4 linked regions of the Homo sapiens genome follow. The protein of the gene in region 1 purifies or fractionates together with the protein of each later gene. This does not show direct contact. Each region holds a gene or a part of one and is shown in the gene's direction. Other genes may lie near its edges.

Region 1 (8,687 bases):
TCTGACTCAGAGGGCCCTAGGTGGGCATAGCACTCTGCCTCGTTCTTGCCACCTCCCTGCCCCGTATGGCCCTGTCTTCTTCACCATACGTGGCACCCATGGCCCACCTCACCTCCTCATTGTCAAGGTCTCCTTGCTCTGCTATGGACATGGCTGGGACCAGCGTGTCTCCCTCCAACTCTCTTCCTCACACCTCCTCATTTCTCCCGTCTTCCTTCTTGCCTCAGAGATAGAAGTGGCTTAAAACTGTTCCTTTCAGGAACAACTAATCAGTGGCCACAGAGGTCAGAATAGCGGGTACCTGGAGGACAGAGGGTAGAGTCTTGGAAGGGGCATAAGGAAACTTCTGGAAGTGTAGCTTGACCTGGGTGATTATCACATGGGTATATACAGTCATGTATATACATATGTCAAGAGTCAAAATTAGCCAAACATGCTGCCTCATGCCACCAGCTACTCAGAAGGTTGAAGAGGGAGGATCCCTTGAACCCAGGAGGCTGAGGCTGCAGTGAGCCATGTTCATGCCATTGCACTCTAGCCTGGGAGACAGAGTGAGACTCTGTCTCAAAAAAAAGAAAGAAAGAAAGGAAAGAAAGAAAGAAAGAAAGAAAGAAAGAAAGAAAGAAAGAAAGAAAGAAAGAAAGAAAGAAAGAAAGAGTTGTCAAGCTCTACACTTCATATTAGTGCACTTTAAGCACTTTTCTGTATATACATTACCTCTCAACTTAAAAAACATTATCACAGAGAGCTCTATGGACAGTAGCAGAAATAAACAGCATCAAAAACTGAAACTTGGGTGTTGGAGTCATATGAACCCGCACTGAAAACCTGGCTCTGTTTTCTAGCTGTGTAGCTTTAGGCAAGTTACTTAACCTTTCTGAACCTCACTTTTTTCAATTGAGATGTGGATCATGAGGATTAGAAATGCTGCTTTTTATAAACAGTGCTTAGCACAAGGGCTGGATCTTGCTGGGTGCTATACACAATTGCTTTTATTTTTATTAATATCAGTGGCCTAGGGAGGACAGGAAAGTCGGAGTGACCTTTCCTGGATGCAGGCAATAACGGGTGGGGGGCCTACAGAATTTAAAGATAAAATAAAACTGATGAGAAGTCAGTCTGCTTTTATGATCACTGTGCAATGGCAGATCTAAATAATTTCAGTGGTAAAATACTTTGTCCTGAAAATACCCTTTATTGATCTAAGTTCTAACAATTGGTGCAGTAACTGTTGGGGTTTAATAATGTATATGTAAAGCTTCAAATCAGCACATTTTTATTCTTATCCTTTAATAAACATATTCTACATGGAAGTCAACTTGACTTGGAGAACTTTAAGAATCCTATAGTTGCCCCCAGAGCATGTGGTCTCAGGAACACACATCAGTTGAGAGTAAGCTCCTCACAACTCTGGAATCTTCCAAGCTTGCTTTGAATGCATTCCTGTCTCCACCGTCCAGCATTCATATTTCTGCATTTATTTTTATTATTATTTTGTGTGTGTGACAGAGTCTCTCTCTGTCGCCCAGGCTGGAGTGCAGCGGCAAGATGTCGGTTCACTGCCACCTCCACCTCCCGGGTTCAAGCAATTCTCCTGCCTCAGCCTCCTGAGTACTTGGGACTATAGGTGTGCACCCACCACGTCCGGCTAATTTTTGTATTTTTTTTTTTAGTAGGGACGGGTTTCACCATGTTGGCCAGGCTGGCCTTGAACTCCTGATCTCAGGTGGTTCTCCCACTTTGGCCTCCCAAATTACAGACGTGAGCCACCGGCCCAGCTGTATTTCTGTGTTTAAACAGTAGAGTGAAATCAACTATGAACGCAGAATGATGGGAAAGATGACGATAAGGGTATTTCAATTTTGTCATTTTACGAAACTACTTGGAGTTTTGATTTGTATTTACAGTTTTTAAAAGAGTAAAACAGTGTGAACTGTGAATGGTAATGATTTTGTTTGGTAAGTGCAAATTTTAATTCATACATGAAAAATATTTGTTTTGTTTCATGATTATTACTGAAAATAATTTTGTACTATGAAGGAAGAGGGGTGTTAAAAATGATCCACTGTGGATGTAAATTATTCTAGGCATGCTTCTGACTAAAACATTAGCATTTCCACAAGAATCCCAAAAAATAAAACAAAATTTAAAAGATCCCTTCTGTTTCTTTTCCTCCAAGTTTCCAGACCCCCATCTCCACCCTGGCCACCTCTTCCTGCCATAAATAATCAAATCCCACACTTTCATCTTCACCTTCCGTTTCCATTGCCTCTTCCGATGGGACAGCACCCGTGGGGAATCTCCTCCATGCTCACAATCCCCGTCTTGCCACTATATCAAGTCACACTTCTTCCTCACCAATCGCCCATTCTGGAACCTCTGCTATCCAGCTAGATCACTTTGAGGTTTGGACAACTACTGGTGGAGGTAATGGGGGCCCCAGACAGCCCTTGACATCACCTCTTTTATCTTTGCCAAATTCTACAAACAAAGCCCATGTCTTTCTGTCCCCCGCCCCCATGGCTGGCACATAGTAGATGTCCCCAAATCTTGGTGATGTGAACTTGTGTGTCTCACCCTTCACAGACATCACCATTTCCCGTTGCACAGAAGGCTCCACTCATACCAGGCGCTTTGGCTCCCAGAATAAGCAGGCTATCATGCTATGTCCGACATCTAGGCGTTGGTACGTACTGTTCCCTTGGCCTGGAACATTCTGCCCTCTCTCACCCTCTCTTTTCTTGGCTTTCTGAAATGGCACCTCCATCAGAAAGTGTCCCTCACTCTTGGTCTGAGCAAGGGACCTTGCCTGGTATTCCTGAACTTCCACCTGTTTTCCCTCTGTTTTCTCCCTCTCTGGGCCTTGTCCTCAGGTCAGTGTTGTGCCTCCAGCTCCTGCAGAGGCGAACTCAGAGGCGGCCGAATGAAACCAAATGGATTTGGCTTGACCCCATCATCTAGCGGTGCCCAGCAAGCGCTGGCACATAGTAGGTCCAGCCTGCCCGGACTCGCCCACCACGGGCCCCCTTCCAGAGCCGGGAGGCAGGCCAAGGGAGGCCCCTTATTGCCAAGAGCAAACAGGCCGCCCAGGGAAGTTTTGCTCTGGGTCACACCCACCTCTGGGTGGCTGCCAATCTGCCTGCCAGAAACCGCAGGCTGGGCCGCGGCTACCCAGAGTCAGGGCCACGGAGCTTAGGAGACCTTGGGTCAGCTCTGCAAAGGGGTTGTTTACTGAATGCTTCTGGTATCTGCAGCCCCGCTGGGGTTCGGACAGGGGGTCTGGAATAGGGCTTCACAACTACAGCAGGGCTAGGACCCTCTTGGGCTGGAAGGAGCTGGAGAGGCCTCTGCAAGCTGTCACAGGCTCTTGGTGCTGGCACTGGCTCAGGCTTTCACACACACACACGCGCACACACACACACACACACACACGGACAGGCACCCCCTTGGTGGCCTTCACAGTTTCACCTTCAGGTAAATGGGCTCATCCTTTGAGCCATGAGGATGGGAAGCGAAGCAAGGAATGAAAAAGCTAGTGTGTTTGTGTGTGTGTGTGTGTGTGTGTGTGTGTGTGAGCGCGCGCGCGCGCGCGCGTGTGTACTCGTGCGTGTGCCTGTGTGTGCCTGGGAGTGACCTCACAGCTGCCGGAACATAAAGACTCACAGGTCCGCCTCCCAGGCTCAAAGCTGGCTCTGCAGGGGACATGAGAGGCACACCGAAGACCCACCTCCTGGCCTTCTCCCTCCTCTGCCTCCTCTCAAAGGTAAGGAGGCCCGGGCCCTGGAATGCACTGCTGACTATTTGGGTGTGGAGGGGGTGGGGATGTAAAATCGCAGCCAAGGACCCCCTTGGCAGAATTCCTCCAGGGCCCCACATTGGGCACAGTCTGGCCCCCATGCCTAAGCAGGGCTTCTCTCCCTGGAACTCAGAGCTGCCTCCGGCCAGCCCTGCTGTGTGACCTCAGATATGTGTCTTGCCTTCTCTGGGCCTCAGCATCTTCCCAGGTGAAGGGTATACAGTTTGTGAGGCCTCTGTGAAGACCATTCATGATCATTCATCAAACTTACCAGGCAAATTGAAGAGGACTTTAATGTATCCTCATTATGAATGGGGGCACTCAAGACATGACATGCTTGGCCTAACTCTGAGCCAGCATTTGGATGGATGCCTAGCTGATTGGAAGGTTCATTCTGCAAGGGCATCAATGCTGTTGGACTCTTAGGCAGTGAGTGACCCGCCCGCCCTAGCTAGAGGGGAACAGGAGACACCTCTGTGGAGTAATGGCCTTATCCCTGAATGCTGCATGGGACATTCACCAAAGAGCCTGTGGGACATCTACCTTGTCTAACATGCACAACAATCCCATAAGGAATTTTCAGTTAAGTGAGGCTCAGAAAGGGTAAGCAACTTGCAACCCCAGTTTTCAGTCAAGTGAGGCTCAGAAAGGGTAAGCAACTTGCCCAAAGCCACACAGCAAAGAAAGGTCAGAGCAATAGAGGAGAGCCATGGTGGAGCCCAGAATGACATGGATGTAGGGGGAGAAGCACTCCAGTCTGTGCCTCCCCAAGCCCAAACTGGACCAAGGCCACAGCTGCTAAGCCTTGTCATCCCCTCGGCAAATGCTGAGTTCCCAGAGCCATGGAATCGGCCCCACCACAAGCCACGATCTCACTGTATTTTCACGCTCCTTTGAGGAGCACGGGCAGGAGCTTCTCTCCCTCAGGCTCCAAGTCTTCGTGCCTGGGAAGCCTGAGAACCACGCTGGCATCCTGTCCTGCTGTTTGTTCTTCCAAAGGGGATGGGTAGGGCATGATGCCAGTGTGGGTGGCTTGGGTAGTTGGAATAGGGGACTTGGGGCTCTAGGAGGGAGAAGGGGCCCAGGATTATACGAGAACAAAGTAAAGCTGTCCTAGACTTGCCATTAGGGTGAGACTTACGGGACCATTCTTCCCTGGTCCCAGGAAGCAGGGACTGCACAGAAACACAGGGACTTAGTCACCACAACATGGAAAGCCACAGCAACCCTCAGAGGGAGAACTGTAAGTCTTCCAGGCTGGCCGTTGGCTCCGGGGCTCCTGGCTGTGGACCGGGGCAGGAGGCAGACACCTGGACACAAGCAAAATCACATTGATCAAGGACTGGCCAGAACCTCATTTAATCTCCATCATCACTCAGAAACAGGTTGTCTCTACTCCAGTTTACAGAGGAGAAAACTGAGCTTCACCTCCACCTTCCAAAGCCGTTTGTCCACATGTTCAGTCACGTAGCAAGTCACTGGCAGAACTTGAATCTCAACTCTTGCCCAAAAAACTCCATGCCCAGTACTCCTGCCCCAGATATCATGAGCCTTGCCCCCCACCACCAGATATCACAGCAAGGCCCTGGGGAAACTGAGGCACAATGGGACAACTTGAGTTTGGGCCTTGGATGTCAACTTGAACTTGGATGTCAATCCTGATTCTGTCTCTTACTGGCTGTGTTACTACACGGTTTGAGCTCCAGTTTTCTCATCTTTAAAATGGGCATAATGATGGCACCTCACATTGGAGGGGTAAATGAGACAACAGCACTTGGCACATGACATACATATGGTATCACATGAGATAATTGTACACTAGAATAGTTGATATCATTAATAGCCTCTCCTGGGTATCGGGGCCTACAGAGTCCTGCCCCCTGACAAGCATGGCCAGTAGAGGGGTCCACAGTGGGAGCCAAGGTGCACAGCTGCTGGTCTATTTCCTGGCACTCCTGTTTTCAGGTGGGAGGGACCTGAGAGTCATTTCTGACAGTCCTCCCTCCATTGCCCACAAGCCAAGGGAGCTGAACCTCTGACTTAGAAGGGAACCCAAAAGCCTAGACCGTTTCTATGTGAATCACCTGTGGATTTATGAAAATGCAGATTCGGGCTGGGCGTGGTGGCTCATGCCTGTAATCCCAGCACTTTGGGAGGCCGAGGTGGGTGGATCATGAGGTCAGGAGTTTGAGACCAGCCTGGCCAGCATGGTGAAACCCCGTCTCTACTAAAAATACAAAAAATTAGCTGGGCATGGTGGCATGCACCTGTAATCCTAGCTACTTGGGAGGCTGAGGCCTCCCAAGAATTGCTTGAACCTGGGAGGCGAAGGTTGCAGTGAGTCGAGATCGTGCCACTGCACTCCAGCCTAGGTGACAGAGCAAGACTCCATCTCAAAAAAGAAAAAAAAAAAAAAGAAAGAAAAAGAAAAGAAAATGCAGATTCGGATTTATTATATAAAAATTCAGCTTCGGATTTATAGAGGGGCTCCAGATGCTGCCTCTCTGACAAGCTCCTAGATGACGCTGCTGCTGCTAGTTCAGACCACACCTTGAGGGGCGAGGCTAGGCCATCGTCTCTAGAATCTGAACAGCCTGCAGCGATGGGATCCACTCCCTTGTGAGGCAGCCAGACACCTAGCTCCGTGTGTCCATCTGCTACTCAGTGCTGTCTCAGTGGGGGCTGTGATCGCCTCCTACTTTGTGGCCCCCACCAGAGGCTGGTCAGCCAGTTTGCAATGGCTCCTAGTGGCCGGCGTGGGAGTTGCCGGGAACTGAAAGCAGGTTTGCAGGATTGTGGGTAGTGGGGGCACTGGGCGGGGCAGAGGGTGAGGCAGAGCAAAGGGGTCATTGCCTGCTTTGGGGCTGCACAGGAGATATGAGGTCATTAATTCCATCATTATAAACTGCAAGCCTCCATTCCTCTAGATGAAACCCTCATCCCCTAAGGATCCTACTAAACTCAAACTTGGCCCCCCAAAGATGGGGCCACTGGAAGCATCTTGAATTATACTTCCTTCTTGGTCCCCACCTTCAAATGGGCAGACAGGGAGCTCACGGCACCTGCTGTATGCTTTGGTTGTTTCTCTGATGTGGGTGGCGAGGGTCAGGCAGGCCACATGGGCTGATACCCTGATCCTGTCTCTGGGGAGTGGGTCCCTGGCTTACGGACACAGTCTACCCCCATCCCGTGTCCCTGAGTCCTCACTTGGGAAGCAGGACCGGGGACGCTCCCAGCCCTGAATCGAACACACTGACGTGTGCTAAGTTCCTGTCCCTCTCTGGAGCTCAGTTTCCCCATCCGTACCTGGCAGGGGGAGGAGGTTAGACTGGGGCAGAGGTGCTGAAAACCTAGCTGAGCTTCAGAAGCCACTGGACAGCTTATTAAAAATAAAGATTCCAGGTCCCTGACTCTGGGACTTCTGATTTTGTAAGCCCCAGAGTGGGTTGGGGGTCTGTATTTTCCCAAGTCTCCTGGCTGATGTGATGTACCTCCAGAGCTGGGACACATGCTGAATGGATCGAAAGGCCAAAAACATCCATGATATGGTTCAATTTATTCAGTCCTAAGATAAGTATCCGTATGCTGGAAAATGTACCAGACCCTACCATTTTCATCCTTGACTTGTTGCTTTTGCCTTTCTGTAAGCTCCCAGAGGGCTGGGGCTGAGCCCTCTGCCACCATTAACAACAAGGATCATCAAAGCTAAGTGCAGTGAGCGCCTACTGCATGCCAGGCCCTGTGCTGAGGGTTTGCTGTGCAGCATTTCATGTACTCCTCAGAGCAATCCTCTGAGTTAGATACTTTGAGGAAACTGAGGCTCAGAATGCTTAAGTAACTTCCTCAAGGTCACTCAGCTAATAAGGGGCAGAATTAGAACTGGAAGTCTAGCCAGGTGCAGTGGCTCATGCCTATAATCCCAGCACTTTGGGAGGCCGAGGCGGGCGGATTGCCTGAGCTCAGGATTTCAAGACCAGCCTGGGTAACATGGTGAAACCCCATCTCTATTAAAAATACAAAAATTGCCAGGCATGGTGGTGGGCGCCTGTAGTCCCAGCTACTCGGGAGGCTGAGGCACGAGAGTCGCTTGAACCCAGGAGGTGGAGGTTGAAGTGAGGCTGGGATCGCGCCACTGCACTCCAGCCTGGGCAACAGAGCCAGACTCTGACTCCAAAAATAAAAATAAAAAATAAAGAACTGGAACTCTAGTCCAGAGTCCTTGCCCATAACTACATGCCATACTGCCTCTTAGGGCATGTTGTGGGACTACTGGCCTTTGAGGCCAGGTCTGCATGGCTCTGAGGCTAAGGTGTGGACACCACACTACCCAGCCTGGCAGAGAAGTGGCTGGTTGTGAGGGTCTCACTGCCCACCTCGAAAGCCCGTGGCTGAGTGAGGTCTCTGTCTCTTCAGGTGCGTACCCAGCTGTGCCCGACACCATGTACCTGCCCCTGGCCACCTCCCCGATGCCCGCTGGGAGTACCCCTGGTGCTGGATGGCTGTGGCTGCTGCCGGGTATGTGCACGGCGGCTGGGGGAGCCCTGCGACCAACTCCACGTCTGCGACGCCAGCCAGGGCCTGGTCTGCCAGCCCGGGGCAGGACCCGGTGGCCGGGGGGCCCTGTGCCTCTGTAAGCAGGTTTGCAGGACTGAGTGGGGGCGGGTGTGAGCGGGAGGTCAAGGCCGTGGTGTCCTGGATCAAAGTGCAGCCCTCCTCTCTCTACCTCCTTGGGTGCTCACTTCAGGTATCCCATCCATTCCAGCTGAACTTGGTGTCCCAAAGCCCACTCCCCACTCCCTCCTCTCCCTTCTTGGCCTCTGCTTAAACCATCTCACTACCCCAATAACCTTTCCCCATCCCTACCTGTCCAAATCATTGCCAACTTTCAAAG
Region 2 (4,225 bases), on another chromosome or scaffold:
GTTTCATCTGTCTTTCCAAGTGATATCAACTGCTAACATGCTCTTTCTTGGCCTTATCAGTGACAGGGGTCTTCAGAAAGAACAAGCCCATTAGTGCTAAGTCATGGTGTAGGAGGGATAGGTCTCTTCCACAAGCATTTGATTGCCTTCTTCTTGTGTACCGTCCCCATCGGAAATTGCTTAGGAAGAGTCTTTGAGATCTAATTAAGATCTGTTTCCTTGCTCTGTCGCAGTGCCCTATAAGGACTGCCAGGCAATAATGAAGGTTCTTTTACTGAAGGATGCGAAGGAAGATGACTGTGGCCAGGATCCGTATATCAGGGTAAGTGGCCTGAGACTCCTTATCCCACAGTGTCCTTTCTACTGAGTCAAGGGGCCTGGAGCAGGCAGGGATGGGTTTTGCAAAACCTCAGAGGAACTGACGCAGAATAAATTGTTAATGTTCCCTTATTTTAAAAACAGCCCTAGCCAATCCAGAACTATATTCTTTCATTTCAGGAATTAGGATTATATGGACTTGAAGCCACTTTGATCCCTGTTTTATCGTTTGAGTTTTTGTCTCTTCCCAGTTTCTCTGAGAAGGTAAGGCCTGTTGTGACTGAGCACCATGTTAGTGTTTGATTTCTCCCTTGCCAGCTGAAGCCAGAGAGGGACTATTTTACTGTCTTCTTATTTTATTCCCAAACTTTAAAACATGGCAGCATAACTTCACCTGGCTCCAGGAGGCTGCTGCTGTTGGGAGGTTCTGACTGAGCCTCTATCAGCCCCTCCAGAAAGCCACCCAGACTCAGAGATTGGGGCCCAGGAGAGCAGGTCATGGTGAGAGCAGCAAACCTGCATTGCTCTCAGCAGTCCTAGAACCCTTTCACTCATCCTCTCATTTAATCTACCCCTCACCCCCAACTTCTGCAAAGCAGGCCAGGGAGGTATTATTTTCCCGTTTTAGAGATTGGGGTCTCAAATTAGGCAACTCAGCTAAGACCTCTAGCAAGTAAGAGACAGGGCTGGGACTCAAACCCAGGGCTTCTGCCCACAACTTCAGTTCTTCTTCCAGTGAGGAGTGATAAAAATTGCAGGAGACAAGTCCAGTAAAGCCTTCCAAATGCTTCAGAGTGAAAATTCAGTGCCCACAGCTTCAGTGAAGTCAGATATGTACAGCAGCCTAGTGCCTGGCTCAGAGTAAATGTTCGGTAGATGATATCACCATTATCCTCTTTGAAAATCAGGACTTCAGCATTGATATCACCCCCTGAATATTCCCATTTTTATTACAGATTCGGGTCAAGTCTTCCCCCACTACCTGCACCCCACTCTAATCCCAGGCTGCGTCAGGCTTCCCCTCTGTGCTGCAGTGCACTTATCACCCTGTGTTTCACTGTCTCTGCCCTAGACTCTGAGCTTCCTGAGGGAAATACTGGGAATAAGGAATTCACCTGTGTACCCTAAAAGTCCTAGAATAAATAGTTCCAGGCACATAGTAAGCACTCAGTAAGTGTTGGGGGGATGGGTGGAAGGAATTAGTTTGCCTACTACTATTGTGAAGCATTTGGAATTCTGAGTCTTAGCTCCTTGGAAGATGTTGAACATAGCCATCGTATAAAATGTCTTTATTGCTTTTTGGTGTGCAGCTTTCTCATCCTGAAGATTACGGGGGACTCATTTTTACCAGCCCCAGAGCAGTGGAAGCAGCAGAGTTATGTTTGGAGCAAAACAATAAAACTGAAGGTGAGGGTGGGTCTGCTGTGGATTCCACTGGACATTTATTTACTCTTATTTCTCCTGCTGGGAGACTAAATTCCAGAAGCAGCTGCACTTCTAAGAGAAGTGAGTGCTTAGTGGTATCAGGTCACAGACTCTGCCTTGGGAAACAGGAGAACAGGGCTATCTCCTAAACTCCCAGACAGATGACCCTGAGGAGGACTTTCCCCTGTCTATTCGTTGTTCACCTCCTAGGGACTGATATATCCCCTTAGAAGGTATCATCTGAAAATAGGATAAATACTACTTTCCTGAAAGAGAGATGATGAAAAAATCTAACTATGAGAAAATGGTCAGTGCCACCATGTCAGGCACTTAGTGACCCAGTCACCTCTTTGACTTGTCTTCCCACCTCCGTCCCTCACTATTAGAACAGTATGAAAATGGCAGTGCCCATTAACAGAACCCTGGGTTTCAGCCTGAGCAAACACCTTAATAAATGCAATTGAACAGCTTCCTAGCTAACAATTATGGAGTGCCTGTTGTATGTCAGACCCTGTGTAATGAATACTTCACGTTCATTACCCCACTTAACCCTAGATAACAATCCAGAGGCACACATTGCTATGATCTTATGTCTTATGTTACCATTGAGAAAACTGAGGCCAGGATAGTAAGCACAGAACAAGTCAGTGCAGAGCCAGGCCTCACACTCGGGCCACCCACCTCCACAGTTACACTGATGAGCGGAGGCAGCGGGCAGAGTGGTTATGCAAGGGCTTTGGAGTGAGTTAGTCCTGGGTTTATGCAGCCATTTGGACATTAATGAGTTCCTTGACCTCTCATCATGGGATTACTACTAATAGTAATGGGATTATCTACTAACAGTAGACTATTAGTTAGGTAGAACTTACTGAATGCTCACTCTGTGCGAGACTCTGTCCTGAATACTTTTTCCTGTGAGATAGATGTGCTTAGTATTTTCACTTGGCAGATGAGGACCCTGGAGAACAAAGGGTATGGAACTTTCCAGGCCCCCACAATGTGTAAAGCACAAGTGCAGGATTCAAGCTGCAGAGTCTGAGTCCCAAAGGAAAGCATCCAGGACATTACCTGGAGCAGAGTGGGCATGGAGTAAGTGACAGTGGTGAGTTTTGGTTATTCTGTCTCCACATTTAACCAGGCTTCGCTGTAGCCTAAACATCCCACCTTCTTGGTGATTTCATACACACATTCACCTCTTGTTGAAAAGAAAGCGTGAGAACCTAAGAAACTCAGAGCCAGCCAGGCGCAGTGGCTCATGCCTGTAATCCCAGCACTTTGGGAGGCCAAGGTGGGCAGATCACTTGAGGTCAGGAGTTCCAGACCAGCCTGGCCAACATGGTGAAACCCCATCTCTACCAAAAAATACGAAAGTTAGCTGGGCGTGGTGGCACATGCCTGGAGTCCCAGCTACTCAGGAGGCTGAGGCACGAGAACCACTTGAACTCAGGAGGCAGAGGTTGTATGAGCCGCGATTGTGCCATTATACGCTAGATGGGGAAGCATGTGTACTCTTTCCCAGTGGTGCTCTGGGTGCTTTTTCTTGCAGTTGTATTTTTTCTTTTTGTGTATGTTTTGAGGATGAAGATAATGAAAAAGAGGAAAACCCTAGAAAGGTCACTATAACTCTTTCTGGTGCTTTATAATAAAGTTTAAAATGCATTTTCCCATGTATTTTCTTATTTTGATTCTCACAACAACCATAGGGAATAAGCAGTAGGAGTGTAGTTAATCCCAGTTACCTTGATGAAGAAACAGACGAGGTGCGTTAACTGACTTACCTGGGACACACACGTTAAGGGGCAGAGCTGGCTCTGTGGAAGGCTTTCTGACTCCACCCAGTGCTCACTCCAGTTGTTCTGCTGTGAGGCTTGGAAAGTAGTTTGTTTACATGCTATGGATAACTTTTGAATAAATACTATTGATATTTATGGGGTAGGAAGCAAAGTGGAACTCAATCTTTGGTTACCATTTCAAAGGGAATTTCCCTTAATGTAAAGGGTAGAGGAATGCTCTTGAATTTAAGGGAAAGTTATGTTCATAACCAGATTTTGGAAAGGAAGAACCATTATTTCCCTGTTTTCTAAAAATGTAATGAATGCCCAGTAGCTTTATGATATATTTATACAATCCATTTTCTCTTTGTGTTTCTTTAATCTATATTTAAAGATTTTGTTTGATCATAAAATGATAATATTCTGTATCAAATTGTGTTTGTTAATTGACCTGAAATTTATTATTTTTACTTTGGTGTAATGGATAAATGAACCCTCTCCTCTGAGATTACAGTTTGTTGACTGCTTTCAGATTTATGTCCCAAATAAACCAATTGGATTTCCTTGTTAGACATTTAAGTTGCTTTTTTTAAATGACCAGTGTCTTTTTCTTTAAAAGTCTAGATTTAAATTTTTGATTTCACTATGCAGATTAATTCTTCAAGTTATGTTGATTTCGTGGTTCCCATTAAAATTCTTCTAGTACCAAC
Region 3 (7,960 bases), on another chromosome or scaffold:
ATGTTTTATTCCTCCCCTCCTTATTTAATAATTAGTAAGATATCAAGAATTGACTGTGTATGTGTTTTTGCTTATTTTGGGGACATTTGCTCGGTGTGAAAGATGGGGGAGCTTTGAATATAATAACTTGTACTCCCTTCAGTGATTGTGTCCCTAACCAATTCCTCATTCAGCCTCCCTAGTAGACTCAGGATCACGAGCCCAGCACTAGAAGTTGAGTGTTACTAGGAAGTCAGAGAATCATCTTTGTGTTTTCTATTATGGCATGGAATTGAACTAGAAAATATTGACTCTGAATAGAAATTCATCCCAAATGTGTTTAACAACTCTTTGGGTACAACCCAAGATAGTGTGTTCCATTTAGATACATGTTTTCCCTTCATGTCTTCCCAACCTCCCTTCCTTGGGTGAACAAATTTAGAAGTTGTTATTTTTGTTTGGCATGTTCTTTGAGCATGCTTAGATATTTTGAAATAATCACTGCTTCAAAGAAAGCTTATTTAAATGAAGTATGTCTTATCTTTATCATTCCAAATTCAGGAAGAAATTAAAGGCACTATTCTTTGGACTGTCTGAGGGGAGTGTAATAGCAGTTATTTATTACTGTCCCTCTTAATAAGCTTCTTGTCTTTTACTCAGCCTCCTCAGGGCTGGCAGTAGGACCGTTACCATCTAAGTATGCATCCAGCTTCTAGCCAAGTTGGATGAAATTAACAGGAAGTAGGGTAGAGTATGATCATTCTTTCATAAGATGATTAGGACTTGAAAGAGATACAGAAATACCTAGATTAGCATTTGCAAAAATGTGATTATGTATATCAGTATCACTTGTGGCGTGAGAGTTGGTTTCATGTGGCAGATGAATCAATTTTTATTTTAGAAGTTTTGTAGTATGTGTTAAAAACATGTTTAAAAACTTTTTTAAAAACATAAGATAACATCAGATCATTCTTCCTACAGTTTTATTACTTAAGACAGTGTTAACTAAAAAATGAGTAGATTGTGTAAAAATACAGATGGTAATATAACTGAAATGGCAAGCATTGTGATCATTAGTATGTGAATAATTTCATTTTAGGAAATGTTGATCTAGTTCAATACCAGAATTTTATTCAGAAAAAGAAACTGGGGCCCAAAAAGGGAAAGTAATTTAGCCAGGGTGTCTTAGTGAGTCACTCACTGGTAGAGTTTGGACTAGTTCCTAGGTCTCCTGGGTCCCAGTCCAATATTTTCACTGTGCCTTGATGCTTCTCAGTAATATTAGCAAAAGTGGAACATTAGGTAAAATAGGGATGCATTATTATGGAACATACAAGAGTGCAGATTATTTTGGGAGACTTGTACCTCCTGTAGATTTGGTGGGCTCATGGAAGGACAGTACAGATAAAGTAGCTGGGATGCTGAATTAGAAACAGATATGCAAAATGCAAGTACATTTTATATTTTATGCCTACCTTCAATTCAGTTTCTTAATTTATAATAGATTGCCAGAAGGGCAAATGCAGGCACAGTTGGAAATAGTAGACTGACCTGAACTGACATCAAATTCTGTAAGTCTCTATACTTTAGAGCTGGAGTTGAAGGAATATTGTGGAGGTCATTAACATAGAATTTTATTGATGTGTAATATATTTATAAGGACCATCTCTGAATTAACACAATTTTCTTTTTCAGAGTCCTTATAGGACAGTTCTTCGAGATAATGCAATACCAACAATATTTGATCTTACCAGTCATTTGAACAACCCACATAGTAGACACAGAAAACGAATAAAAGAACTGGTATGTCTATGTACTTTCAGCTTTCCCACCTTCCCCCATAATACTATGAAATCAAATACAGATGCATTTATGTTAAAATTAATCCAAATTACTCTCTATTTCAGAGGTAATGTAACGGGAAATAAATGTTATGGTTGTTAAATAGCCTAGATGTGAGATGATGAGTTTTAGTATTTAAATTGGAAAATCTCCCTCAGAGTTAGCCAGTTGATACTTGTTGACTTGGTCCAGAGTGTGCTGTTAATTACAGGCCACTAGCTCATTCCCTTCTGGAGAAGAAGGAAAAAGCTACCTTTTCTTTCATAGTAAGGAAAATAGAGCTGAGGTGTTTCCAGAGTTCAGCACAAAGGAATAAAGAAAGGGAAAGTGTAAAAGTGGAGACATGGAATGTTTTAAAGATAAGGTTTCTATCACTATTAAATATGTACAGGGTTTAGAAAAAAACACTGAAATTTCTGTATATGGCATAATTTACACATATTCTTATGTTCCTTGGATATCCTTCAGTTCTGAGGATTGACACCTATCTGTATTTTGTTGACCTTAGGTGAACAGAAGTACAGTAACTCCTTAGTCCATGGCTTTTTGTCATCATTGCCACTAGCAAGGCCCTTATTTTGCTTTATTATTTTTCCTTCTTCACCCACTATTACCATTACCATTCCTTTCCCTACCAGTTGGTGTCCATGCTAGTGTATTTAATATATGTCCTATCAGTCCACCTACTGTGTGCTTTTTAAAGATAGCATTTATCTAATTTTCCTTATTCTATGCTTACCTTTCTATTTAGATATTTTATCCATTTGGAGTTAGTATGTATGATGTACAGTAGGGATCTATAATAACTTTTTCTCCTTATAGAGAAACTGTTTTCCCAACATGGTCTGTTAGTTCTTCCTTTCGTCCACTGGTATAAAATGCCACCTCTGTTATATAACAAGTTTACATGAGGCTGTTTTGGGGAGTTCTGTTCCATTTCACTGTATTATTTGTTTGCAACTATACCACACTGTTTTATTACCATGGCATTGTAATATATCTTACTTTCAAATAAGGTGATTGTTTAACTCTTCTTTTTCTTAACTATTTGTGGACCTTTATTCTTCCCTATGGATTTTTTTTTTCCCCCCCGAGACAGAGTCTCACTCTCACCCAGGCTGGAGTGCAGTGGCATGATCTTGGCTCACTGCAACCTCCACCTCCCGGTTTCCAGCAATTCTCCTGCCTCAGCCTTCCAAGTAGCTGAGACTACAGGCGCTCACCACCACGCCTGACTAATTTTGTATTTTTAGTAGAGACGCGGTTTTGCCATGTCAGCCAGGCTGGTCTCCAACTCCTGACCTCAAGTGATCCGCCCACCTCGGCCTCCCAAAGTGCTGGGATTATAGACGTGAGCCACCGGCCTCCTCCATATGAATTTGAAAGTCCTTTTGTCAAGTTCTCCTAGAACTTCTTTTGGGATTTTCATTATAATTGCTTTGAATTGACATCTTTACAATATTAGCTATTGTAAATTTATTACTAGTTTAGTATTACTGTTAGTAAACGAATATTACTAGTTTACTGTTACAGTATAAACTATTGTAAAGTATTAACTAGTTCTATCCATGAAGAGAAAAAAAATCCCATAAAATACCTATCAAATAACAGCAATCATTGACAAAACTAAATACTAGTTTTTTGAAAAGAATATTAGAATACTTTTAGGAGTACAGAAAACGAAAAATTTTGAGAGCTTTTGTTACAGTTGTTTAAATGAGAATGTATGCATTCTTAGATCACTTCTTAAATACATTATGGTTCTTACTGGTATAGATGATATATTCTGGTTGAAATTGTTTCCAGCACTTTTGAAGAACTTCTTTTTAAGTTAATCCTAGTAAGTCTTCTGAGTTTTTCCTCTGTTACTGATTGTATCATCTGCAAATAAGGAGAAATTTGTCTCTTTCAGTTCTTATTATTTTAATTTTTTCTGTTGCCTGTCTTGTTTAGTCAAGATCCCTGGTACTATGTTGAACAATTCTAGTAATGTCATACTTGCCTTGCCCCATTAAGTATAATGTTTGCTGTTGGTATTGTTAGATAGTTTTTATCAAGTTAAGGAAATTCCCTTCTACTCCCATATTCAGAGTTTTGTTGTTTTTTTTTAAGATGGGGTCTCACTCTGTCACCCAAGCCAGAGTGCAGTGGGGCAGACACTGCTCACTGCAGCCTCCACCTCCTGGGCTGAAGCAATCCTCTTACCTCAGCCTCCCAAGTAGCTGGGACCACAGGTGTGTGCCACCATGCCTGGCTTATTTTTTTGTATTTTTTTTTATAGATGGAGTCATGCCATGTTGCCCAGTTTGGTCTCAAACTCCTGGGCTCAAGCAGTCCTCTTACCTCAGCTCCCCAAAGTGCTGGGATTACAATAGTGAGCCACCACGCCTGACCTATATTCTGTTTTTATATTTAACTTATCACATGCTTTCATTGCATGTATTTAATAGACAAGTTCATTTTTTTCATTCTTTAATGCAATAAGTAATACTAATGGATTTTCTGTGAACCATCTGCATTTCTGTAATGAACTCTAGTTGACTGCAATATGTCTATTTGCTTTTATATACCATTGGATTCAATTGGTCAATATTTTATTTAGGATTTTACATTTGTGAATCTTGGTCTGTAGCCTTCTTTTCATGTACTCTTATTACCCAGTTATAATATCAAGGTTCTATTGGCCTCATAAAATAAGTTGGGTATCTTTTTTTTTTTTTTCTCCTAGAAAAATTTGTGTAGGTAGATGTTATCTGCTCTTGAAAGTAAGGTAGAACTTGGTAAAACCATTAGATGGCTTGCGGTGGATGAGGGAAAGTTTTGATTGCCATTCTGCTATCTTTATTGGTTTTCTTTCTTTCTTGTGTTTTGTTAATGTTTCTAAAAGTTTATGAAACTTTAATAATCTTTTCAAAGAACCAGTAGTTTTGTCAGTGATTGTTGTACTTATGAACTATTTTATTGGTTTTTCTTTGATTAGGGTGATTTATTTTTTGACTCTTTTTCTAGCTTCTTGAATGTTTAGCTCATATTTATGTGTATTCAAAGCTATAAAAGTCTCTCTTAGGTCCATTTTAGCTATACCCTACAACTTTAGACATATAGTGTTGTCATGTCTGGCTGTAGGTATTTTGTAATTTCTCTATTTTGTTAACATAGGATTGTTTTTCTTAGTTTCCAGATGTGGAATTATTTTTAATTGCTATATGATATTTTAAATTTTAAATGTTATTAAGAGATACGTAGAGGATACATATAGTCTATGTGATGTTGATTCTTTCTGATTTTTTTGCATCCATTATTGCTATTCAAGTCTGTGCCAGCCTGATTCTTGTTCCTTTTTAGGTAATCTTCTTTTCTCCCTCAAAGCTTTTTAGAAGGTTTCTTTATATTTGACATTTTAAAATTTGCTAACCTGTATCTAGATGTGAGTTTTTTTTTTATGTACCTTAATTTGTCATCTTACAACTGAGGACTTACACCTTAAATTCTGAGAAATCCTTAGTTTTTATTTTTCTTTATGCATTTTCCCCTCTATTTGTTTATTTCTATTTTCCTGGGACTTAGATGAATACTGACACTTACATTACAGTCCTCCATATCAGCTTTCTTCTTGGTGTCCATGGAGGACTGATTCCAGGAGCTTCCCTCAGAGAGCAAAATCCACAGATACTTGATTCCCTTATATACAGTGGTGTAGTATTTGCATATAACTTACACACATCCTCCCGTGACTTTAAATCATTTATAATACCTAATACAATGTAGTGCTATGTAAATAGTTGTTCTGTTACATTGTTTAGAGAATAATGACAAGAACAAAAATCTGTGTGTTCAGTATAGACACAACCATCCTTTTCTTTTTTTTTTTTTTGAGACAGAGTCTCGCTCTTGTTGCCCAGGCTGGAGTGCAAGGGTGCGATCTCAGCTCACCGCAACCTCCGCCTCCCGGGTTCAAGCAATTCTCCTGCCTCAGCCCCCCGAGTAGCTGGGATCACAGGCATGTGCCACCACGCCCGGCTCTTTTTGTATTTTTAGTAGAGACGAGGGTTCTCCATGTTGGTCAGGCTGGTCTTGAACTCCCGACCTCAGGTGATCCTCCCGCCTCAGCTTCCCAAAGTGCTGGGATTACAGACGTGAGCCACCATGCCCGGCACAACCATCCATTTTCAAATAATACCTAGATTATTTATGATACTTAATACATTTATGTGTTTGTAACACCTACTACAATGTAAATGCTATGTAAATAGTTATGCTACGTTATGTAGGGGAAGAATGAGAAAAAAAGTCTGTACATGTTCAAGATAGATACAACCATCCATTTTTTCCCCAGCATTTTCAATGCATGGTTGGTTAAATCCATAGATATGAAGTGTAATATGTATCAGGATGAGGAGCTCAATCACTTGCTGTCCTGTAGCTATCATTTCCCTGTAGTCTGTCCCTCAGAGAGCCTCACATATCTCACAGCAGGCATACTCTTCCTGACCCACCATCCTTATAAACGTGCAGTCCGTAGGATAAGGAGGGGATGTCCAGGTTGACCAGCCTGCTGATGTTTCTTGTTATCAGCACCATGTCCAGTGCTGCCCAACAGGCATCCTGCTGTCTTCAGCTGTCACTGGCATTGCTGCTTTTCTGCCACAGAAAGTAACAGGTGGCTCATGATTTAAGCATTGTAGAGGGTTGGAAGGAAAGTAAAGGATGCAGCTGGAAAGTTCTTCCTTTGTCTAACCCTATTGGTGCCACTTGGCCTACTATGCTCTGTGTATGCTCTGTGTATCTCTTCCATGCTGGTACTTTCACCTTCTGCTTCTCAGGGATTTCTCATCACTTTTGTGTTGAGTCCTGAGATTCAGCAACCTCCTTCTTATGGGACATCTCCAGGGTTAAATTGGGAAGTAAGATGATTTGTGTCCTCTTGAATTTAACTCCAAGTGCCATGGTGTATTTTTGTGCCTTTCATTAGCCAGTAAACACTTATAACCCAAAGTTACGATGATTTAGGTAGAAAATAAGCAAAATGATGTATTCTTTTTTCCCTAAGACTTTGTTATAACCTTGGAGTCATTAACAGCTTATTCTGGTTTTCTCATTGTCTGTTTGTTTGAAGAATGTGTACTATATAAAGAATTTATGCTCTTGAAAGAATTAAATTGACTCAGAATAGGCATTTGTATTTGTGAGTCTAAGATGATACACTAGAGGTCAGTTTTTTAAAGATGATTTGTTTTTTTCTTTTTTTTTCTTGACATTTAGAGTGAAGATGAAATCAGGACACTGAAACAGAAAAAAAGTAAGTGATAGTGTTAATGACTCAACTTCTGAATGCCTTTTAAAAAGGCCTTGACCTGGTAAGGACAAATAAATATGTTCTGTGTTGAAAACCTACCTTGAGAATGAATGTAGGAGTGTGCTCAATTTTGTCCTGTGTTTTGGAATTATCTATGAGACTAAAGTCTAATTTTAGTTTGTCTTTATTGAGTGCTGCAATGCCACACACTATGCTATATGCAGGCCTCATGGAGGTGACGCCTCCTCTCTCAGTGTGGTAGGGGTGGCAGGCACACAGTGCTCCATTGTAGGGAAGGAAGGGCAACAGTAGAGGCATGCACTGAATCTCTTTTTCTGTCCACCCAGTTGTGGTATGTAATAAATTCTTTGTAAATGTTTAAGGACTAAATGCTGTGGGGGCACATAGTGCCATTGTGAGTAGTGGTCACAACAGCCTTTCTGGAGGTGCTGATGTCCGAATTATGTCACCAAAGGACGAGGGCTAGAAGCTGTTTTTCTTCTTGTCAGTTATTAGTTACTCCTCCTCCTCTGTTTCTTCCTCCTATTGCTGTTATTATTAACGTAGCATTTTATTGAGTGCTTACTGATGCCAAATCATTGTTCTAAGTGCTTTACTTGTATTAATTAATTTAATTCTCACAATAGCCGTGAGATAAGTACTGTTATTTCCCTCTTTATGGATGAGGAGATATGGACTTGGGCAAAGAGAGGGAAAGGTATTCTGTGCACGAAACAGGGTGCTGTTTTGGGGAACTACACTCATTTTAGTGTTGTTAAAGTTTGTGATAACCCATTATGGTTAGAAAATAGCCTAGAGAGGACCCCAGAGGCCAGAACTTGC
Region 4 (8,598 bases), on another chromosome or scaffold:
TGGCAAAGGACATCATACATATGGAAAAATGGAAGGCTAGAATGAATGAACTCTGTGGTGTCAGGCTGGACTGGTATTGAAAATGTCAGTATGGACTCATGTTTTAGTTGTACTGTGGCTACTTATGAACTGTGCTTGATTTTTGGGAATATACTCTGAGATATTTTGGAGTGCAGGGCATCATGTCTACAATTTACTTTTTTTTGGAGACAGTCTTGCTCTGTTGCCCAGGCTGGAGTGCAGTGATGTCATCTCAGCTCACTGCAACCTCCGCCTCCTGGGTTCAAGCAATTCTCCTGCCTCAGCCTCCCAAGTAGCTGGGATTACAGGCATGCAACACCATGACCCACTAATTTTTGTATATTTAGTAGAGACGGGGTTTCACCGTTTTGGCCTGGCTGGTCTCAAACTCCTGACCTCAAGTGATCAACCCACCTCAGCCTCCCAAAGTGCTGGGATTACAGGCATGAGCCACCTCGCCCAGCCTGTAATTTACTCTCAAATGGTTCAGGAAAACAATGTATATTTTCATATAGAGACAGAGATAAAGACACAAAAAGGATGAGAATGATAAAGAAATGAGGTAAAATGTTAAGTACTGGGGAATCTGGGTGAAGAGAATGCAGGGATTCTTTATACTACTTTTGCCACTTTTCTTTTAGCTAGAAATTATTTCAAAACAAACAGCTTGGCCAAATTAGCAGGTAAGAAAAAATTATTAGTGTTTTTTATTTTATTTCATTCATGTGTTCAGTAAAGTTGAACACATGGATGTTAATGGACCATTCGGGTTATATGGTTCATATTTTTTGCTCATTTTTATGTCATGGTGTTTATCTTTTCTGTGCTGATTTGTAAAAGCTATTTTAAAACCCTTCATCTGCCATATATGTTACATTTCTTTCCTGCTTTCTGCCACCTTCCAATTTGTTACCAACTTTCTTCTCCAACCTTGGGCCACTGGCATATACACTCATTTTAAATATCAGAACTTGTAGTGCTCTTTGAAATGCAGACAGACTATGGTTCATTCTGCAACTGCATATTAGTTAACAGGCAAAAATACCTTAGTAAGAGAAAGTGTCTTTTCCTTCTAATGTAAAAAAAAAAAAAAACCTAACCCCCCCGAAGCACTAAGGTGTTTATTTGTTTATTTTTTTGAACAGGGTCTCACTCTGTTGCCCAGGCTGAAGTGCTGTGAATCACAGCTGACTGCAGCCTCGATCTCCTAGGCTCAACCCATCCTCCCACCTCTGCCTCCCAAGTAGCTGAGACTACAGGCATGTGTCACTACACCTGGCTTTTTTTTTTTCTTTTTTCTTTTTTTTTAGAGATGGGGTCTCCCTATGTTGACCAGGCTGGTCTGGAAGTCCTAGGCTCAAGTGATTCTCCTTTCTCCTGTCTCAGCCTCCCAAAGTGCTGGGATCATAGGCATGAGACACCATGCCTGGTCAGTTATTTAAGAAAATAAATATTAGACCATGCAGAAATAATGCTATCCTAAAATTTGTGAGCAAGTACAAAGTTCATGATTTAGAAATTTAAACAGTTTAAACGCAAAATGAAGTTCTTTTTAATGAATACCAAAAAACTGACTGAAAATCTAGTGAATACCTTTTATGCTTCAGACACCTCGTATAGAGAGTCTTTACCCTCAAGCATCTCGCAGTTGAGTAAGGGTGACATGTAAGAAATAGGTTACAATCATTGTGACAAGGACAACTGCAGTATTATTATGTACACACAAGGCAATGAACAGGCAGAAGTAAAGTTTTGTCATGAGGCAGGATGAGGCTATAGAAGAGGTGACAACTAAGCTAAAGAAGCCACTCAGGATGTCAGAAGACAGCTGTTCAGTCAAAAACAGGCACAGTATCCAAAGGAACTCATTTGATCCCTAAAATTCTGTTAAGATGTGCTGTAGGTGGGGCGCGGTGGCTCACGCCTGTAATCCCTGCACTTTGGGAGGCCGAAGTAGGTGGATCACCTGAGGTCAGGAGTTCAAGACCAGCCTGGCCAACATGGTGAAACCCCGTCTCTACTAAAAATACAAAAATTGGCTAACATGACGAAACCCTGTCTCTACTAAAAATACAAAAAAAAAAAAAAAAAAAAAAATTAGCCGGGCGTGGTGGTGTGTGCCTGTAGTCCCAGCTACTCTGTAGACTGAGGCACGAGAATCGCTTGAACCCAGGAAGCATAAGTTGCAGTGAGCCGAGATCGCACCACTGCACTCCAGTCTGGATGACAGAGCGAGACTTCGTGTCAAGTAATAATAATAAAAAAAGATGTGCTGTAATTGTCTCCGTTTTACAAAAGAGGTCAAGTAGTTGACACAGGTCCCACGCTAGTGAGGGTTTTGGGATTCAAGCACAGACCACCTTCGCCCCTATGCTACACCACCTCAGGCTGTCGGGAGATAGGCGCCCAGTCAAAAGGCACATGGAAGAAAGCCCACGACTTCTCAAGCATTGAAGCAGGAGTGGCGCATCGGTATTCTCAACTTCAAACTTTGAGAACAGTCATGGTAGGAATGCATTTTATTCAAGAATGGGTTCAGGTGAGGGTGGATATGGGCACTGGGTTCAAAGGACAAATTTGGAGAATTCATGATCCAGGAGAGTGAACAAATAAGGAAGGGCTAAAGAGATCCTCGAAGTTGAAAGGTTCAGAGTTAATGTCCTCTAAGGAGAGCCAACAAGGGGTTACAAATGCTGAAGTCATCAAGAAAATGTGCCTGTCTTTCCTTGAGACTGGGAAGGAGAATTAGGATGACGAAAATCCAGAGGATGGTAAAATAGCTTGACTTCAAAATAACAGGCCGGGCGCCGTGGCTCACGCCTGTAATTCCAGCACTGTGGGAGACCGGGGTGCGGGGGGGTGGATCACCTGAGCGCAGGAGTTCGAGACCAGCCTGGGTAACAGGGTGAAAACCCGTATTAAAAAAAAAAAAGCCGGGCGCGGTGGCCCACGCCTGTAATCCCAGCACTTTGGGAGGCCAAGGCGGGCGGATCACTTGAGGTCAGGAGTTCGAGACCAGCCTGGCCAACATGGTGAAACCCCATCTCTACTAAAAATAACAAAAATTAGCCGGACGTGATAGCGGGCACCTGTAGTTCCAGCTACTGGGGAGGCTGAGGCGGGAAAATCGCTTGAACCCAGGAGGCAAAGGTTGCACTGAGCCCAGACTGTCCCACTGCACTCCAGCCTGGGCAACAGAGCAAGACTCCGTCTCCAAAAAAAAAAAAAAAAAAAAAAAAGCAAGAAAAAGAAAGAGAATGGCGAGGCCCAGAGAGACCGAAAGTCCCACCAGAGGGTACAGAGCTAGCTCAGCCCTAATGCCGGCCCCGCGGTGCCTTTCCGAGCTCACGGCCTCCCCTCAGCATCCGGGTTTCGGCCTCGGAGCGCCAGGGACGCCACGAGGACGCGCCCCACACTTGCGCTTCTGGGTTCCAGCCCCCGCGGCCCCCAACAAATAAAGAAGGGAAAGTGCTGAGGGTGACGGCCCCGGGGAGCGCTGCGGCTCTACGTCAACCTGCGGCGGCCGCCGACTCATTTGGGGCCACGCTGGTTGCATTCGTCACGCCGGCGATGCCTCTCAAACCCGCGGCCTGCCGAGGACGTTCCCACACGGGAGACCCCAGCGACGCGGGCGCATCTGTGGCTCTCGAGAACCGGGCCGCGGAGCCGCCGCGAGCGCAAGCGAGGAATCGGCGACTGCGGGGGTGGACAGCTGGGGCTTGTAGTCCCCTCGCTACCCTCTATTCTGGAAGAGGCGGGTCGCGGCCGCTGAACTCCAGCTCTGCGCCTGCCCAGGCGGCCGCACGCTCAGGGGCGTGGCATGGGTGGGTCGTGAGTTGGGCGGGGCCCACAGGGCGTGCGCGACGCAGCGGCGCGGCGCGTGGCGTAAGGGGCGTGGCGCCAGTGGGCGTGGCGTGGCGCAGTGCGAAGGGACGCGGTGCGCATGCGCGTGAGGGCTGCCGCGGGTGGGTGGTATCGAGGCCTGTCGGGTCAGGGCGGTTCGCGGGTGCTGTCAGAGCTGGGCCGGGGCCCCTAGGCAGGGTAGCCGGGTCGTAGAGGCGGGGGCCGGTCGCGGTCGGTGGAGCGGGATGAGGATGTAGGAGGGGCGGACGTGGCGGAAGCCGCGGGGTCCGCGGGGTCGGTGCCTCTAGGGAGCCAGGGAGGCCTTTCCCGAGGCTCCTGGGGAAGAAGAGGCGAAGCGAGAGTCCCTGGGGAACCCCCACTCCACTCCCAGCTGGAGACTGGGTTGTGTCTGCATGGACCAGAGCCCACAGTGCGAGTTGCTATAGGCAACCAGCCAGGGTGGCCAGCTCCTTCCCGTTTGCCCGTGATGTTCTGGTTTTGGGACCAAAGCATCCTAGGCCTCCAGCCCACTGCAGTGACCGAATTCTGCGCCCCCTGCCCATCTTCTCCCGCAGCTTCCCTAGATTAGGCTTGGGAGGCAAGAGGAGGCCTCCTGACCTTTCACACTGCCTTTTTAATATTAAGATGAAGTCACACTCCACAACTTTCTTCCAGCCAGGCCCAGACATGTCCGTCCTTGTAAGTTAAAAGCTTCCATGGGAGCCTTCCTTCCTAATCAAGGTAGGTAGACTACAGGAAGGTACATCTTGTTTTATATTTTGTCCTGTAGAAGTCAGATTTCAGCCCAGTTGTGTAGGAGTGAGGATGAGCCTATGCTTATATCAGAGCTTTGAGTACAGAGACATTTGGTCTGGAATTTTAGTCAGCCTCTTCAACCCCAGAATTTATAGGTTCAATCAGAACAGACATTAGCTTAAGTTTTCCCATCAATCGTCTATCATTAAACTGGCAAAATCTAAATAATTAGAAAATATGACAAAGATGATCCAGACAGAGATGTTCAACTTTTTCCTTAATTCAAAAAGCCTCGTGGTGGAACATCGGACCCATTCAAGAGGAAGGATGAAAGCTCTATATAGGAACACGATGTGAATGGAAGAAACCTGTCATTGTGAGGCTGGCTTTTGATTAGTCATCTGATGTCTTCCCTAATGTGACATGACTTTGAGGCCATAAACTTCAGTGGCTAAGCTGTAGTTTCTCAGCCTGCAGTTAAATTGCAGAAATGATAGGGCTTACATTAGTTTTGTTTTTATTTGATGTTGAAGATCTTTGAGTCACATTAGAAACGATGAGTATTTTTCATGTGGCACTGATGAGTTAATTCATATTATTATTTTTTGAGACAGAGTCTCTATTGCCCAGGCTGGACTGCAGTGGCACGATCACGGCCCACTGCAGCCTCGACCTCCTGGGCTCAGATGATCCTCCCATCTTAGCCTGCCAAGTAGCTGGGACTACAAGTGCACATCACCACATCCGGCTAATTTTTTTGTAGATATGGGGTTTTGCCATGATGTCGAAGCTGATTTCAGACTCCTAGGCTCAAGTAATCCTTCTGCCTTGGCCTCCCAAAGTGCTGGGATTATAAGCGTGAGCCACTGTGCCAGGCCAATATTATTCCCCAAAAGAAGGAAGTTGGGTGTGAGGTCCTGCTCCTGTGGTCACCGTGAGGTTTTTTTTTTTTGTTTTGGACTCTTGCCCAGGCTGGAGTGCAGTGGCACAGTCATGGCTCACTGCAGCCTCAAGCTCCTGGGCTCAAGTGATTCTCCTGTCTCAGCCTCCCTGGTAGCTAGGACCACAGATGTGCACAACTATGCCCAGGGAATTTTTAAATTTTTTGTAGAGACAGGGTCTCACCATGTTGCCTGAGCTGTTCTCAAACTCCTGGCCTCAAGCAATCCTCCTATCCCAAAGTGCTGAAATTACAGGCATGAGCCACCACACCTGGCCACCACTAGTTTTTGTAATGGGAGCAGGTTCCATATGAGATGGAGGAATGGATTTCATGATTGTCTTTTTAATTTCTTAGATCTCCAAGAAATTGGACATGAGGAAACCACTCTAAGTGTGACCACTCTAAAGCATTAGCAATCAGTCATTTCACTCTAGGGAGAAATCAGAGCTGAAATATAGAGGATAGGTAAAGTCCCCAATGTAGATATGTATTTTTATATTTGATTACTTGCTTTTTTTTGTTAGATGCAAATAATACGGCACTCCGAACAGACACTAAAAACAGCTCTCATCTCAAAGAACCCAGTGCTTGTATCACAGTATGAGAAATTAAATGCTGGGGAACAACGTTTAATGAATGAAGCCTTCCAGCCAGCCAGTGATCTCTTTGGACCCATTACCTTGCATTCTCCATCAGATTGGATCACCTCCCACCCTGAGGCTCCCCAAGACTTTGAACAGTTCTTCAGTGATCCTTACAGAAAGACACCCTCTCCAAACAAACGCAGCATTTATATACAGTCCATTGGTAAATACTGGTAATGTGCTGGTTTTGGTTCAGTTTTGCAGTGGCGCTCTTGTCAGGAATAGTCCAGGCTATGGGTCTGATTCAGATGGGCCGTTTTAGGATCGTTTTTGATATTCATTGCGGCGGTACAAGTTTTGTAGCCAAACTGACTTAAAAGATAACATTTTGTTTCTTTTTGTTTCATAGCAACACCAATGAATGATAAAGGTTATTGAAAATTTAGAGTTGGTTTTGTTTCTAATTTGAATCTTCTTACTCATAGACTGGGTAAACACTGAATAATCATCTTAAAGTCTGTTTTTAAATGTTCTTCCATATTGTAGGCTCTCTAGGAAACACCAGAATTATCAGTGAAGAATATATTAAATGGCTCACGGGCTACTGTAAAGCATATTTCTATGGCTTGAGAGTAAAACTCCTAGAACCAGTTCCTGTTTCTGTAACAAGATGTTCCTTTAGAGTCAATGAGAACACACACAACCTACAAATTCATGCAGGTGAATTACACGACTTTGCAATTCGAACTGAGTATATGTATATAATATACACTCATACATTTATGTATTTCTTTTTAAATAGGGGACATCCTGAAGTTCTTGAAAAAGAAGAAACCTGAAGATGCCTTCTGTGTTGTGGGAATAACAATGATTGATCTTTACCCAAGAGACTCGTGGAATTTTGTCTTTGGACAGGCCTCTTTGACAGATGGTATTCCGTTTTTGGCATTGTTGTTAGAAGCTTCTTCAGCTTGAGAATATTTGAAGATGTTAGAAGAGGGAAAAAATTCCAACCAAGAATCATATTGATATTTAAAATATTTTCAGTTGAGACATTATGCCATAATGGGAAGTGTGCTGTTGGTAGATTGTGATAATCTAGGTTCTGGTTGGCCACTCACTACCTACAGGACCTTAAAGGTAACAATACCCACATCATGGAGTCATTTGGAGATAATTTACATAAAAGTGCCTGTACATAAAAAGTGTGGATAAGCCTGGACAACATAGACCACATGTCTACAAAAAAATAAAAATTTAAAAAACTAAATTAGCTGGGCATGGTGGCACATACCTGTAGTCCTAGCTACGCAGGAGGCTGAGGTGAGAGGATTGCTTGAGCCCAGGAGGTTGAGGCTGCAGTGAGCCATGATCGAGCCACTGCACTCCAGCCTGGGCAATAAAGTGAGACCGTGTCTCAAAAAAAAAATGTATATATAGGCCTGGCATATATATAGGCATACAGCATAACAGCTAGTAAATGTCAGTAATTCAGTAGCAAGGTGAATTAAACCAATTACAGTTTGAGCTATCAATGGATGTGAAAATCTTGCTAATTATTTTTCAATTCTTTTCATAGTCATCTTGCACAGTTAGAATAGCCATAGACTAAGTGTATGCTTCTTTCTCATCATACGACATTTGTTTTTTAATTTAAAGAGTCAAAACGTCCATCTTTGATTTGAGATATGTAATAAACCTTGACTCATTAGGAACTCTGTATGGTAATATTAGGGATGGGAAAGGTTCTGCAAACCGGTCATATTTTTAACCTTTTTTTTTTTTTGTCATCTCTCTACTTCTCCCCTCCCCTTAATTATTGTTCTTATTTCTCTAACTTCATCCCTAAGAATCCAACACAGACTTGAAAGGGAAAAGGCCCCCTAAGGGGAGTGGTTCATTAGTGTTCTGGGGATGGGGAGTAAGTACAGGGACTATCCTGAGAGTTTATGGTCTGTCTGGATGTTACATTAGCCTTAGGATTTGTGTGGGGTGGTAAGCTTTTTGGGACAAATGTTTCTACTAGAGGTGGGGGCTGTAGGGTTATAGAGCCTCTTCCCACTTACTCCTTTATTCTTTATTCTCCATTTATGTGAGGTTTCTTGTGGCCCCCATGGCCCTACCAGCATGCACTCTTGGAGACGTGGGTCACTACTTTCTTACTGATTTTGGTGGTGTGAGGTAGCTTTTTATCATAAGTTTTCTCTTTTATTATTAACCTGATAGAGATGGAAACATTGAAAAATAATTCTATCTACCTTTTATTTTTCTTTTGAGACAGAGTCTCCCTCTGTCACCCAGGCTGGAGTGCAGTGGTGTGATCATGGCTCACTGCAACCTCAACCTCCTGGGCTAAAGGGATCATCCTGCCTCAGCCTCCCGAGTAGCTGGGACCACAGGACCACCACACCCGGCTATTTTATTTTATTTTATTTTTGGCCAGATGGGATT

The links.
Region 2: the proteins of CCN5 (region 1) and UROS purify together in Homo sapiens (affinity purification with mass spectrometry; one large-scale study listed by BioGRID and IntAct). This does not show direct contact.
Region 3: the proteins of CCN5 (region 1) and THAP12 purify together in Homo sapiens (affinity purification with mass spectrometry, with the first as the bait; one large-scale study listed by BioGRID). This does not show direct contact.
Region 4: the proteins of CCN5 (region 1) and AMZ2 purify together in Homo sapiens (affinity purification with mass spectrometry, with the first as the bait; one large-scale study listed by BioGRID). This does not show direct contact.

Annotation. Positions count from the first base shown.
Region 1 is NC_000020.11:44,711,688-44,720,374, forward strand, and holds the start of CCN5 (CCN family member 5 isoform 1 precursor), read left to right. Parts: upstream 1-3,681; 5' UTR 3,682-3,703; coding exon 3,704-3,763; intron 3,764-4,937; exon of another isoform or gene 4,938-5,106; intron 5,107-8,209; coding exon 8,210-8,426; coding exon of another isoform or gene 8,427-8,434; intron 8,435-8,687.
Region 2 is NC_000010.11:125,812,534-125,816,758, reverse strand, and holds part of UROS (uroporphyrinogen-III synthase), read left to right. Parts: intron 1-233; 5' UTR 234-259; coding exon 260-322; intron 323-498; coding exon 499-582; intron 583-1,628; coding exon 1,629-1,725; intron 1,726-4,225.
Region 3 is NC_000011.10:76,354,778-76,362,737, reverse strand, and holds part of THAP12 (52 kDa repressor of the inhibitor of the protein kinase), read left to right. Parts: intron 1-1,674; coding exon 1,675-1,782; intron 1,783-7,083; coding exon 7,084-7,120; intron 7,121-7,960. UniProt on the Homo sapiens protein: Upstream regulator of interferon-induced serine/threonine protein kinase R (PKR). May block the PKR-inhibitory function of DNAJC3, resulting in restoration of kinase activity and suppression of cell growth.
Region 4 is NC_000017.11:68,244,101-68,252,698, forward strand, and holds the start of AMZ2 (archaemetzincin-2), read left to right. Parts: upstream 1-3,942; 5' UTR 3,943-4,605; intron 4,606-6,085; exon of another isoform or gene 6,086-6,087; coding exon 6,088-6,370; coding exon of another isoform or gene 6,371-6,380; intron 6,381-6,693; coding exon 6,694-6,867; intron 6,868-6,949; coding exon 6,950-7,078; exon of another isoform or gene 7,079-7,287; intron 7,288-8,598. UniProt on the Homo sapiens protein: Probable zinc metalloprotease.